Linked DNA regions of Homo sapiens. The protein of the gene in region 2 interacts with the protein of the main gene of each other region in a biochemical or structural test. Each region holds a gene or a part of one and is shown on either strand. Other genes may lie near its edges.

Evidence for each region.
Region 1: the proteins of E2F3 (region 2) and HELLS form a complex in vitro, tested with the Homo sapiens proteins (one study listed by BioGRID).

What each region holds. Positions count from the first base shown.
Region 1 is NC_000010.11:94,596,948-94,602,599, reverse strand, and holds the end of HELLS (lymphoid-specific helicase), read right to left. Parts: coding exon 5,644-5,652; intron 5,566-5,643; coding exon 5,489-5,565; intron 1,073-5,488; coding exon 978-1,072; 3' UTR 501-977; downstream 1-500. UniProt on the Homo sapiens protein: Plays an essential role in normal development and survival. Involved in regulation of the expansion or survival of lymphoid cells. Required for de novo or maintenance DNA methylation. May control silencing of the imprinted CDKN1C gene through DNA methylation.
Region 2 is NC_000006.12:20,474,159-20,482,866, reverse strand, and holds part of E2F3 (transcription factor E2F3), read right to left. Parts: intron 3,022-8,708; coding exon 2,910-3,021; intron 1,662-2,909; coding exon 1,442-1,661; intron 106-1,441; coding exon 1-105.

The DNA.
Region 1 (5,652 bases), on a different chromosome or scaffold from region 2:
GAATATACATGGCAACAGCAATATTTTTCCATGAAATAAACACTAACACAGAAATGTATGGCTTATGGAGTATGTCCCCTCTCCAGGGTACATTCAGGATTTCTCTTCCTCATTGTCTGATATCCTTTCACACAGGGTCTAAATTGTGCCTCTTTTGGCCTTTATGCTGTTCTATTACAGATTGTGCATTACTTACATATTCCTAAGGCCTATTCTCTTATATTTGGTTCTAGTTAACCCACTACTATAAATTTTCAGGGTCTGTCTTGTTTTGCATGATACACTACCATTTCCAATTTCTAGTCGTTTCTCAAGACCCTAAAGTTTCATTCAGAAACTTCTCTTGTGCTAACACAATGTCCACTTGAAATCTCTATATGACACACTCCTATAGTACTAGTGAATGAAACCAAGAAAACAAAATAACCAAATCCTACCGACAGCCAAGTCTTTTGCTATTATTGCACCTAAGCTATTCCTGAAGAAATAATTTAATGAGATCATCTTATAAGGAACATTTATTTGGTAAACTATCTCATAGAAATAGACTCTAAAATCAAACAGTTTCTTAAACAACAGAGAGCATAATCCCAATCTCTCCCCATGAAAAGCCTACTTCATAACTGAAGTACCTAAAGCCCATGAACTGCATTACTAGAAGAAAGGAGGGAAAAAGACATTTACTAAACTTCCACAGGAAGACTGTATAAATCTGGAAGTGGTTAAGTACACATCAGCCTGTATCCAAGAATACTACTCAGTCTCAAAAATTAACTGAAAATCTAAACTTAATATGGATACTTCTTTGTTCTTGGTAAGGCTCAGAAAATTACCATCTATTTAAGTACGCATGGTACTAGTTACATGTCAACTGATATAATAAAAAAGGTGAAGTGGACAATCAGTATTTCAAACCCAATACAGGGAAATCACTAGATGTAAATAAGAACTTTTAAAAGCTATTCTTGAGCTCCACTTTAAAACAAACATTCAGGACTGGAATCTTCAGAATTTTCTAATATCTTGAATATCCCCATCTTCTCTTTAATTGGTCCTGAAGCATTCATTTGATCTAAGGGAAAAACATTAAAACAGGTACATTTTAGAAGTATAAGAAGAAGAAATCGTAAAAGAAACATCCAATATGATGTTATGAGAAGTGAGTCATCTGTCCAAAATTATAAAACTCACAGTAATACAGGGCACTCTCTTCCTTAATCACCAAGATTTAATAGCAGTGAAAGCAAAAAGGTACACTATTCTTAATACAACAACTAGAATCAGACTCTTGGGAGCATACAATCTAAAGCATCAGTTTGCTAGTCAAAATCGCTTTTGCTGAATTTAAGGTAAGATAAACAAGTCAAAGAGCAATAAATAATATCAATTTGAATCATGTTGTCAGAAACGTTTTAAAAAGAGGCCCAATCACGATTCGTTTAATAGCTGAAAACACACCACAAAAAGCTTACCTTGAGAAACATTTTGAATCAATGACAATATGTAGTCTCCTAAATTTTTATCAACATGACAGCTGTGAAATGAAATCTGATTTTCATTTGTATTACTGATTTCTAATCATCCTTGTCTGTTCATCAGACATTTCTTTCTCTCTTGGTAATAGCCTGCTCTTATATTATCCGTTTTCATTATCAACTTTTATTTACTTGCATATCCTAAACACTTCCTGTTATATGTTGCAAATATTATTTGTGGTTTGTCTCTTATCTCTTTATGGTGTCATCTGTCTTATAGTAGTCTTTCCTATTAATGTAATTAAAATCTATGAAACCTATCATATAATTTGTGATTTCTGTATTATAAAGAATTCTAATTCTAAAATCATAAATATATTTTCTTGTCTTTTTAGGTTAAAATTCTACCTTTAATATTTAGGTTTTGAACACGTGGATTGTTAATTTATCTGAAGTTTGTAAGTGCAGTGTGAGGAGAGGAGAATCTAAGTTAATTTTTCCCCTATTAATTACTATTTCCCCAGATCATCTATTGATTAATAGGAATTTCCTATCAGTTGTTTGAAGTTCCATTTCACATTTATTAGCTTTTCGTGAAAGTTGTCTTTCTAGATTCACCATATTGTACTTCTAGCCAATATATCACACCATGTGCTAATTCTACCATCTTGATTATTATGACTTTTAAATTTTTAATAAGACTTTATACCTGGTATAGAATATCTTGTGCTTCAAAACTGTCTTGGTTCTGGCCCTTTATTACTCTCTCATATAAATTTTAACAACAGTCTGTTTTACAAAAAGTCATTCTGGGATTTTTTTTTTTTTTTTTAAGAGACAGAGTCTCGCTCTGTCACCCAGGCTGGAGTGCAGTGGCACAATCTCCATTCACTGCAACCTCCACCTGCCAGGTTCTAGCAATTCTCCTGCCTCAGCCTTCTGAGTAGCTGGGATTATAGGCACATGCCTCCATGCCCCGCTAATTTTTTCTATTTTAGTAGAGACAGGGTTTCACCGTGTTGCCCAGGCTGGTCTCTAACTCCTGAGCTCAGGCAATCCACCTGCCTCAGCCTCCCAAAGTGATAGGATTATAGGCATGAGCCACCACACCCAGCCATCATTCTGGGATTTTAATTAGAAGAAAAATTCAAGAATATAAGTTAGTTTTGGGGACCACTGACTTACACTTTGTAGTAACCATTCATATCCACAAATACAGCTAAATCTGCATGTTTACTCAGTCTTTCTATTAACGTCCTTCAATGTTTCATAATTCTGTCCTTATATAAACATGTTAAAAATTGTTAAACTTTAATTGTAGGCATGTTAATTTTGTAGCTGTTGTAAAAACCTTCATTATTAAACAATTATTGCTGTTACACATATTATTAATAAGCAATCTTCTTAAATTCTATTTTAAAAGATTCTGGATTCCCTTGGACTTCCTATGAAGATAATCAAACCAGACCACTTGCAAATAAAAGCAGTTTCGATAATGCCAGCACTTTAGGAGGATGAGGCAGACAGATCACTTGAGCCCAGGAGTGTGAGACCAGCTTGAGCAACATGGCAAACCCCTGTCTCTACAAAATACACAAAACAAAATTAGCAGGACATAGTAATCACACCTGCAGTCCCAGCAACTTGGGAGGCTGAGGTGTGGGGATTGATTGAGCCCAGCAGGTTAAAGCTGCAGTGAGCCATGATCACACCACTGAACTCCAGCCTCGGTGACAGAACGAGACTTTGTCTCAAATAAAAAAAAATTATGAAGATGATTACGATATTATGGCAAGTTGGTTTTTGGTATCTAATTAGGTGATCATCTAGTTCTCCATTATTTAATTGATATGAATTATATTATCAGATGTTAAACAGTCCTTACATGCCTCACATAATGTTGTTTTTTAATATAGTTTAGATTTGACCATGATGCTGTATGTCTCATATTTCTCCCTAAACTATTTCAAAGTTAAAACTCAAATAAACATGCAAATAATCCAGAATATCTAAAACAATTTTGAAAAAGAACAAAACTAGAGAAAGTACACTTCCCATAAAGCTACCTTAATTAAATCAGTGCGATACTGGCATAGGAATACCACAGAGATCAATGGGACAGAATTGAGAATACAGAAATAAATCCTTATATTTATGATCAAATTATTTGCATCAAGGATGACAAGGCCATCCAATAGAAAAAGGATCATCTTTTTAACAAATTAATATTGACATGCAAAAAGATGAAAATTCATTGAAAATAGATCATAGATCTAAATGTAAGAGCAAAAACTATAAAACTATTAAAAGAAAATATCAACACCTTGAATTAGGCAAAGAGTAGTTACAGATGACATAAAAATCATGAGTGAACAGAAAAAAATTTGTTAAAATTGAAATTCATTAAAATTTAAAACTTTTGCTCTTCAGAAGATACTAAGTAAGTAAGTGAAGAGACAGGCCAGAGTAGAAGAAAATGTTTGGAAAATACATCTGATTAAAAAAAAAAAAAAAAAAACTTCCAACCAATATATTTTATTTTGATTCAATAAGACACAGAATTGAATTTTAAAATGAACAACATATTTGAAAATAAGATATCATGACACTGTAGCCAGTGCCACGCAGGTAAATGTTTAACAATTGGGTCTCAAAAAAAACAAAAACTGAGGCACAATGGCTCATGCCTATAATCCCAGCTTACTCCAAAGGCTGAGGCTGGAGGATCCCTTGAGCCCAGGACTTTTAGGCTGCAATGAGCTATAGTCGCACTCCTGCATTCTAGCCAGGAATACAAAGCAAGACCCTTTTTTGTTAAAAACAAAGACTGGGGTTTCTAGTTTCTGCCTGTATCCGTGATATGAATGTTACTGCCATCACCAATTTCAAAAGACCAAAATGTCACGGAATACAGTTGGGAAAAAAAGATTATACAGTATCTCCACCATACAGATGCAACAGACAAATAATCAATAGCCTAGACGACAGTAATATGTTGTAAAATAATTAGGAAATTATGAAGTACAAAATATTATTTTTGTTTTCAAAATAATTCATGGTCATCACTGTAGGCATCAGATCATAAGGTGGTATTCTAAAAACTGATAAAAAAAAAAAAAAGAAGCAATATATCCTGGCTCTCTTCTATCTCAGGGAAACTGTAAGGGAAAGTTCTTAAATAACCCAGCTAATAAAAGAATGACAGAACAAGAAAAATCACCATTTTGCAATGATTAAGTTAATAATGGTTCTTATCAGCCACTTTCAAGGGATACTAAAAATCACCACGTTAGGCTTGGTGCAGTGGCTCATGCCTGTAATCCCAGTGCTTTGGGAGGCTGGGGTGGGCACAACACCTGAAATCAGGAGTTCAAGACCAGCCTGGCCAACATGGCGAAACCCTGTCTCTACTAAAGATACAAAAATTAGCCAGGTGTGGTGGCAGGCGACTGTAATACTAGCTACTAGGGAGGCTGAGGCAGGAGAATCCCTTGAACCCAGGAGGCTGAGGTTGCAGTGAGCTGAGATCGTGTCAGCGCACTCCAGCCTGGGCGACAGGGCAAGACTCTGTCTCCAAAAAAATAAAATAAAATAAAATAAATCATCGTGTTAAGTAAAGGATGAAGGCTGACAAGACACTTTATAACATTATCTTGATTAATCTTAGCTCACTGGAAATAAGAAATCCAGATACGATGTGCCTCCTGGTATGACGAAAAATATGAGAACAAAGCACTGGTATTCTTAACTAAGACAGGAACTTGAATATATTCATTTACAAGTGTTATTTACCAGTTTACAGAAAATATCTGAATTATGGAAGAAGTTAAAGATAATGACATTTATGGGCAAAATGTCATGTCTGAGATTTGATTTTAATACTCTAAGAAGAAAAATGACAATAAAACAAGATTGGATACATGTGGCTGAATGAATTGCACAAGGGGTTCATTACATTATGCTAATTAAGTGTATGTTTCGAAGCTTCCATTAAAAAAAAGCATAATACTTACCAATAAGATCACTTCGATCTAACAACAACTCTAGATCTTTATCACTAATGACCTTCTCTCTTGATCCTTTTATTTCCCTATAGAAAACAAAATATTCAAGTCTATGTGAATAATTCAAAGCTACAAATTAAATCTTTCTAAAATTAAAAACTCACCTTTCATAA
Region 2 (8,708 bases):
ATCAGTTCATCTAATTTCTTCTCTTCCTGACTGAGCTCGGTCACTTCTTTTGACAGGCCTTGACACTGGGCCAGCATGCCCCCATCCTCAGACAGACTGCAGCCCCTAGAAACCCAAACACAGACTCTTCATGGCTACTCATGGGAGGGAGGGGAAGGAGAAATGATCCTTTGGGTAAATGTCTCCTCTTGACATAGGAGGTCACATTGCTTGTTAGCCAAGTGTTAAAATTAGAACATTTACACATATATATATATATATATATATTTTTTTTTTCATAAATACAGTTCTGCACTTTTCACAGCATAGAAATTTAGTGAAAGCGCACTGCTATTTTCAGGATTCTTTCCTCCAGGGGAGGTCTACTTCTTCAGAAGGTTCAAATTCAGAGGGCAAAAGAAGGCAACCACCTTCCTCCCTTGCCTCATGGCTCCCAGGTGGTGGGGGAAGAAAGGCGAAAAAGGATAAAAAGATAGAGAAAGACAGAGAAGATGGAATGGTTCAAAATTAAAAAAAAAAAAAAACAAAAAAACAACCCATCCAAAAAAGCATCAAAAACTCAGGTAATTACTGAGGGTCTTATATCAACAACTAAAAAGAAAAGAAAGTAAAGGAAACAGATGTATGTGATGTATGCAAGAACTGAGACTAGTGCACAATATGTTTCTCTAAACCAGAGGCCAAAACGGGTTACCAAACTGTCAACAAAATTCCAAAATGTGCAAAAAAAGGTATGTATTCATCTTCCATCTGAATTAGTATCTTTTCAAAGCCCTCCTGTAACAGAATTATTCCTTCCAAAATGCTTTAATAATTCAATACTGTGCTTATAGTGGCTATTTAGATGCTCTAAAATTCACAAAATATATTACATATGTAATCATACGTGTGGCTGTATAAGTATCATGCTACCATCCCTGCTCTACAGACGAAATGGAGGCATTTAAGTCTTGCCTTAATTTACCCAGAAAGTGAGTTAATCTGCTATTAGAACCATGGATAAAGATATTCTGTAACTATGCAGTTGTACGTATACACATAGATAACCCATAAGCCATCATTTCCAGATTCTTATTAGAAACAAGCTGAAGACGTGTACACATCTGTCAGATACACACGTGGGTGCACACAGACATCTATGTAACAGATGAACAGCAGTCCACTTTCCAACTGCAGGGACCTCTTTAAGGATGCCGTTGCTGGATGCTCATCAAATATAAATCCTTTTATCTCTGACAGTATCTAAACAAAGTCTCTTTGTAAAGAGACTTCAAACTTCTGGCTTAGAAGCTGAGGAGGGAAGAGAGAATGAGAGAGAAGAAAACAGTAGGAGAGAAAAGAAAAGAACGTGTGGGCGTGGATGTGAAAGTGAGGAACTAAGAAACCAGGCAGTTTGAAACGACCCCCTCAGAGCCGGGGCATGGGGAGGACTCCTACTCACATCCATTGGACGTTGTTTTTAGACTTCTTCTTAATGAGGTGGATGCCTTCCAGAACGTTGGTGATATCATAAATCCTTCTCTTTTGCACTTTTAGCACTTCTGCTGCCTTGTTCAAATCCAATACCCCATCGGGTGACTGGCTCAGGAGCTGAATGAACTTCTTGGTGAGCAGACCAAGAGACGTATCATACCGCGTTTTTTCTGAGGGAGATTTTGGAGCTTAAAGAAAAACAAAAACCGAGCGGGTGGGGGATAGGGGGAAAGGTAAAGAAATGAAGGGTGTCTTTGCAGTCAAGCAAGCTCTCTTTCCCACTGCAGCCAAAGTATTAGTATCTGAAGCAAGGCTGTCGTTGCTGTTGGTGTTGGCAAGTCATAGAAAGCTATGAAAGTTTTTTATTAGAGCAGGAAGGGAAGGTAAAAATTCCAGGGTTTGATTAAAGCATTTCACCTTGAATTTCTCAAGAGTTTCTACCTTGACTTACACCATTCCCTGGCTCCAATGAAGAATTTACATATAGCGGGCGCTAAAAAATATCTGTCAAATGAATGAAAGAGTGCTGTGGCCTCAGGGGACCAGCACACACGAGGCCTACGGTGATGGAGCCAGGCTATGAGTCTCACTAGCACTGCAGGACAAGGTCTTAAACAGACCCATCTCAAATGGCCTTTCAGGCTCTGGTATCTGTGTGTGCGTGTATCACCTGTTCACCAATTTTCCAAACAATGCTTCATTTTGATAAATAATTACCTGGAAAAGTCTTCTGCCAAATCTCCCCATCTCTCTTAAAGGAAATTTCCTTACTTAATATTGTACTTGTTCCCCCATAGGTGCACAGGTCAAGGTTTTAATTTAGTGTCACACAATTTGTGGATTGCCTAATGCATGAACTAAAGGAAGAGAGAGAACAAAGTCTAATTTAGCCCTTATGTTAAATGCAAACACATACATAATGGGACTAGTTGGCTATTTCTAACCTACGTTTCTCTCTCTCCCACAAGAAACGGTAATAGTATTTGATAGAAAGAGAAACAGCCTGCAATTTATCGGGCTCAATCAATTCTTACGCTATCATATGCTGAGCTGGAGATTGAGGTCGGCACAGACACTGGTGACTCTGGCATAGTTCGTGGACATCCAGTTTGCCTCAGACTCTGAAGCAATGTCCATTAAGGGAAGTTAAAATTAAATTTGATATAGAATGGTGCCAAAAGTTCGTATTCCGAGTTGAAAAATGAAACTACATACAGTTAAAAGAAGTCTTCCCTTATGGTACCAGTGTGACTCTGTAGCCTTTCACTGGTTGTCTGCTGACATTGTATTTATTTTTTTGGATAAGCACAGAAAGAAATGAAAAAGAACAAAACATGCCAGAATTATTCACACCTTGGCATCCTTCCGGCCATAAGCTTTGAAACTTGGAAATGCCATACCAAGGAGAATAAGGAAAGAGATGAAAAGATCCTTACTTTTTGGACTATCTGGACTTCGTAGTGCAGCTCTTCCTTTGCCCTTGGGGGTTTTTAAACCATCTGAGAGGTACTGATGACCGCTTTCTCCTAGCTCCAGCCTTCGCTTTGCCTGTAATAAGAAAGTGCGATCTCTCGTCACCGGTCATATGGACAAGAACAAGAAGGGAGGCAGTTTGTGGGCTGGCCTGCCAAATGCTGCAGGCTCATGCCAGCTCTCACCCCTCTGCTCCACCCCACTCAGCATCTTGTCATTCCCTAGAGCCAGGATTCTAGCGTTGTAGGCTGGGTTGTCATGCACACTCTCTTCACCTGCCGTGATCATCCGTCCACACCCAGATGGACAAACACAGCGATCCTTCAGCATTAGGTTCAGGAGTCACTTTGTTCATTGATTCAACACATCATGTGCCTGGCATGGGGTTGGATGCTAAGAATATCACAGGCGCCGTGGGGCTTAAATTCCCTTTCCACAGTGAGTCTTTCCTGCCCATCTCCCATTCTCCGACCTGGGTTGGACCCCCTTCCTTGTGCTCCCCAAACACTCTGTGTTTATTTGTATCATGACACTTATTCGGTATTACTGTAAGACTTATCTGTTTCTCATTTCCTTTAAGGCAGGGACTGTTTCCCATTTATCTTTGTATACCCAGTGCTTGGCACAGAGCCTGGGTTTCTGTAGATTTTCAATCACTCTCTCTATATACTGTATATTCAATGAGAGAAAGGGTGATTGGATCGTAACACAACTAGTCACAGACTACAAACGGCCCTTCATCGGGAAAACAAATACTGCAAACATGCAATCTTGGGCTTCAACCACTATTACTTTCTCCATTTTCTTATCAAGCCTAGCAAATGAGAAGCCCTTATCTAAGTTTTTAATTTAACTCCAATTAAATTTTAAAATATCCACATAGCGTCTTCTAGGTACCTAGGCATTGGGCTTAGTAAGCAAGATAGATAAGGGGCTTCGAGTCCAAGAGAAAAGATAGATGGTTAAGCAGTTGTTAAGTACTAATTGTATGGGTATGACAGGTGTTTTAGAAAATAAATGGCACCAACTGGACACTCAGCACAAAAATATGTATTTAGGCTCATTTTCAGGCAGATTCTTCTAATGAGGAGATTTGCAGTTTCTTTTTTTTAAGACAGAGTCTTGCTCTGTCGCCCAGGCTGGAGTGGAGTGGCGCGATCTTGGCTCACTGCAACCTCTGCCTCTGAGTTCAAGTGATTCTCCTGCCTCAGCCCTCCCCAAGTAGCTGGGACTGCAGGTGCACGCCACCACTCCCAGCTAATTTTTGTATTTTTAGTAGAGACGGGGTTTCGCCATGTTGGCCAGGCTGGTCTCGAAGTCCTGATCTTTGGTGATCTGCCCACCTTGGCCTCCCAAAGTGATGGGATTACAGGCGTGAGCCACTGTACCCAGCCGAGAGTTGCAATTTCAAAACAACTCCCCGTGATGTGAAAACGTAAGTAATAACTTATCAGCGGAAGCTAGATATTCAGCCCCTCTATGGAAAGTTACCAGCTAACCCTGCACCGTCTACTACGATAGCCACTGGTTACTAGCTCATCCAAACTGACATGTGCTATAATTGTAAAATACACACTGAATTTCGAAGACTTAGTACAAAACAGGGTAAAATATCTCAACAATTTTAGTAGTGATCACATGTTAAATGAAATAAATAAAATACAACTGACCCTTGAACAACATGGGTTTGGACTGTCCGTTTCCACTGATTTTATTTTTTTAGAGACAGGGTCTTGCTCTGCCGCCCAGGCTGGAGTGCAGTGGTGTGATCTCAGCTCACTGCAACCTTGTCCTCCCAGGCTCAAGGAATCCTCCCATCTCAGCCTCCTGAGTAGATGGGACCACAGGTGCACACCATGATGTCTGGCTAATTTAAATTTTTTTTTTTTTGGGTAGAGATGGGGCCTCTGTATGTTGCCCAGGCTGGTGTTGAACTCTTGGGCTCAAGTGATCCTCCTGCCTCATCCTCCCAAAGTGCTGGGATTACAGCCGTGAGCCACTGCACCCGGCCATGAGTGTGTCCACCTATATGTGGGTTTTCTTCTTCCTCTGTCATCCCTGAGACAGTAAGACCAACCCCTCCTCTTTTCTTTCACCACACCTTCCTCAATGTGAAGATAACGAGGATGAATTTTATGATGATCCACTTCCAGTAATGAATAGTAAATCTATTTTCTCTTCCTTATGATTTTTTTTTCATCCAGCTGCTTTATATGCCCATATGCCTTCTACACTTTGAACCCTGGACCAAGTTCAGCTGCTAGGAAACGCAAATTCCAGAGCATACCTAAGATGCATTGGATCAGAAACTCTGGGAATGGGGCTGAGCAATCTAACAGGCCTTCCAGGTGATTCTGATACACCTTAAAGTTGGAGAAACCTGGCTTTAGATCATAAGGGAAAAGAGTAAGACACTCAGGCAAAGCCCAGCTCTGCCCAGCACGGCCTATTTCACACACCCTCACCTCTAGTCCTGCTTGGCTGATGAGGGAAATCTATCCTGTGGATTCCACTTTCATTCATTCCAAACTTTCTTTTATTGATAACATTTCCTCTCTAACTTCATTGTAAGAATACAGTATATAATACATATACCATATGAAATGTGTTAATGACTGTTTATGTTATTGGTAAGGCTTCTAGTCAACAGTAGGCTATTAGGGCTGGGTGCATGGATCACACCTGTAATCCCAGCTACTCAGGAGGATGACTTGAGGCCAAGAGTTCAAGACCAGCCTGATCAACGTAGCAAGACCCCCCATCACTAAAATAATAATGAAAACCCCAAACAACAGGCTATTAGTTAAGTTTAGGGGAGTCAAAAGATCTATCTAAATTTTTGACTGTGTCAGGGCACCTCTAACCCCAATGTTGTTAATGGGTCAGATGTAGCATTAAAATTATTTCATCTGTTTCTTTATATATATATTTTACGATGTGGCTTGCCTCAGTGGCACACCTTATCTTTCTACTGCAGTGCTAAGTTAAACATCATTCTAATGGCTCCGGAAGGACAATCTGCTTGCTGGACTTCATCTTCCCCTCCCAGCCATTCTGTCAAGTCCTTGTGTGGGCCTGCTGTGGTTGGTCCAGCAAACATTCACTCTTTATCAGGCAGAAGCTCCCTGTTTGTTCCTTGGGGAGCCATCCCTTTCCTGGTCTAAGCGCATCTGTGCACACAGGTGATCCAGGCCTGGCTAATCATTGTGGCCCATCCTGCCCTCCCCGCCCCCACCGCGAACAGGTTGAATGGCTTATGACCAAGGCTGGAGGAGCAAAGGCTAACCCCAGGAATGTTTCTGGAACTATCTGGCAAGAAGCAGGTATGTCTTTCCAGTAAGGTTGGTAAGTGAGGAGCCTAAAGCTGCCTGAGAATGGGGCCTTCCCAGGGGAAAGCAGAGTGGAGAGAAGGAGAGAGAGGGGTCTGAGACCACCACTCAAAACTCTGGCTCTGGTCATGCCCTGGGGGCAACTGTTGGTCTTTCCCAGACTTTCCAGTTACATTAGCCAATAAACTCTCCTTTTTGCTTAAAGCATTTTTTTTTTTTGAGACCCGGAGTCTCGCTCTGTCACCCAGGCTGGAGTGCAGTGGTGCAATTTCAACTTATTGCAAGCTCCGCCTCCCGGGTTCATGCCATTCTCCTGCCTCAGCCTCTCGAGTAGCTGGGACTACAGGCGTCCGCCACCACGCCCGGCTAATTTTTTGTAGTTTTAGTAGAGACGGGGTTTCACCATGTTAGCCAGGATCTTCTTGATCTCCTGACCTCGTGATCCGCCTTCCTCGGCCTCCTCAAGTGCTGGGATTACAGGCGTGAGCCACCGTGCCCAGCTGCTTCAAGTGTTTTGAGTCGGGAACCTAGAATTGTGCTGTTGCCAGTGACAGCTTATGGAACTGGCTGAGTCAAGATGGCTATGGTGTGACAGGGAGTTGGCAGGCCTTGTTAGAGAGTGGCAGAGTGTGTTGGTCACTTCTTGTGACCGCCAGGAAGATACTACAGATAGAGAGAAACTTCATCTGAGGCTGGCCCGCCTCAAAGAAAACAGCTTTGCTATGGAGGCCTTCTCTACAGAAAGCAATCTAAGGAGACATAGAGCTGTATTCTCTGCCCAAATTAAAGTCAACAAATGGGCTGGGCACAATGGCTCACGCCTGTAATCCCAGCACTTTGAGAGGCCGAGGTAGGCAGATCACCTGAGGTCAGGAGTTTGAGACCAGCCTGGTGAAACCCTAACTCTACTAAAAATACAAAAAGTAGCCCAGCATGGTAGCATGCACCTGTAGTTCCAGTTACTTGGGAGGCTGGGGCATGAGAATTGCTTGAACCTGGGAGGTGGAGGTTGGTGCCTCCGCAATCCAGCCTGGATGACAGAGAAAGACTCTTGTCTCAAAAAATGAAAATAAAGTGAACAGAAAGAAGGCAAACTTGGAAAAGAGTCTGGGACCCAGAACTCCTAGGGACCTAGGGCCGTGCCTCAGCAGTAAAGAACCACCCACTGGTCAGCAGGCTGGGGGCATACTAGTTTTATCTCTCCCTCCCAGGCTGCTGTTTCAGACTGCCATGAGGCAAAGGCCTATGGAACCATTAAACTGTAGGTTAGGGAAATTTCCATGTCTGCTGCTAAGTGACTGAGACTTAACTTCGAAAGACCGGGACTAGTCTTCATGTGTAACTCTCGTTACTAAGCACCAAACCATAAATTGACCAAATTTGAATGCTAGATGGACAAGCTACTAAAATTGCAAGGCACTTTTATTGCGAAAGAATCACTAAGTCTAGAAAGTGAAGGTCCATGATGTTGAACCTCTAAGGAAATCAATCACTAGGTCCAAAAGCCACGCCAGAAATAAGTGAGGTGTGAAGAAGGGGCAGCCCCAGAATTCCTCCCAGGAGGTGGAACTTGGGGTGGACTTATAGGCTCTACAAACTGCTGTCCCTGTGGAGGACATGACAAGAAGCAGGAGGTGAGCACTTTATGTCATTTCCCCTTTTCAGAAGGGAGGTTCCCGTTGGGTTATCCTGTTATTTTTCCTCCCCTGTTGAGTGAACAGGGAGGGCGGAACTGGATTTGTGGGGACCACATATTACCTGTTTGGTCTCAGATCTGAACATGGGTGCAATAATTAGAATCTCTTGAAAAAGGGCTAAGAATTTTGATATTTGATGGAGCAGCATTATTTTAATGCTTAACTTAGCAAATTCAAGCACACATGCCTGGTAAAACAAAAAACTATATGACAGGATTTAAATAGTGCGGGTGAGCTCTGTCTACACCACCCTGCCCTGGGCTGAGCACCAGGGTAGATGGAAATCTCTTCTCTTGGTCATCTCAATTTTTGTTAGTTCACAGCGTGAGCATCGTACTGATTGGAGAGGTATTCATTGTTTATGCACAGATCTTTACATTACATGGCCCCTACCAGTAAAACAGCCAACTTATCCAGTAATCAACAGAAGGATGGGCCATTTGGTTCCAAGCAGTGGTAAAGCCTGGCTCTGTGAGATTCTGTGTGGAACTCCATGTGGCACCTTCCGGCAGTACTTTCAAGGGTAACTTGTACTATAAACAAGGTATGTGCTAACGTTAAAACCTCAGCCCCATGGACGTTAACATGCCTCTGCAAAGAAACAGTTGTACTGGTAAGCAGTTCTGAAAATCTATGTAGGAAAATGTATGTAGTTAGAGCTGGGTGCAATGGTAATGCGCCTGTAGTCCCAGGTACTTGGGAGACTGAGGCAAGAGGATCACTTGGGCCCAGGAGT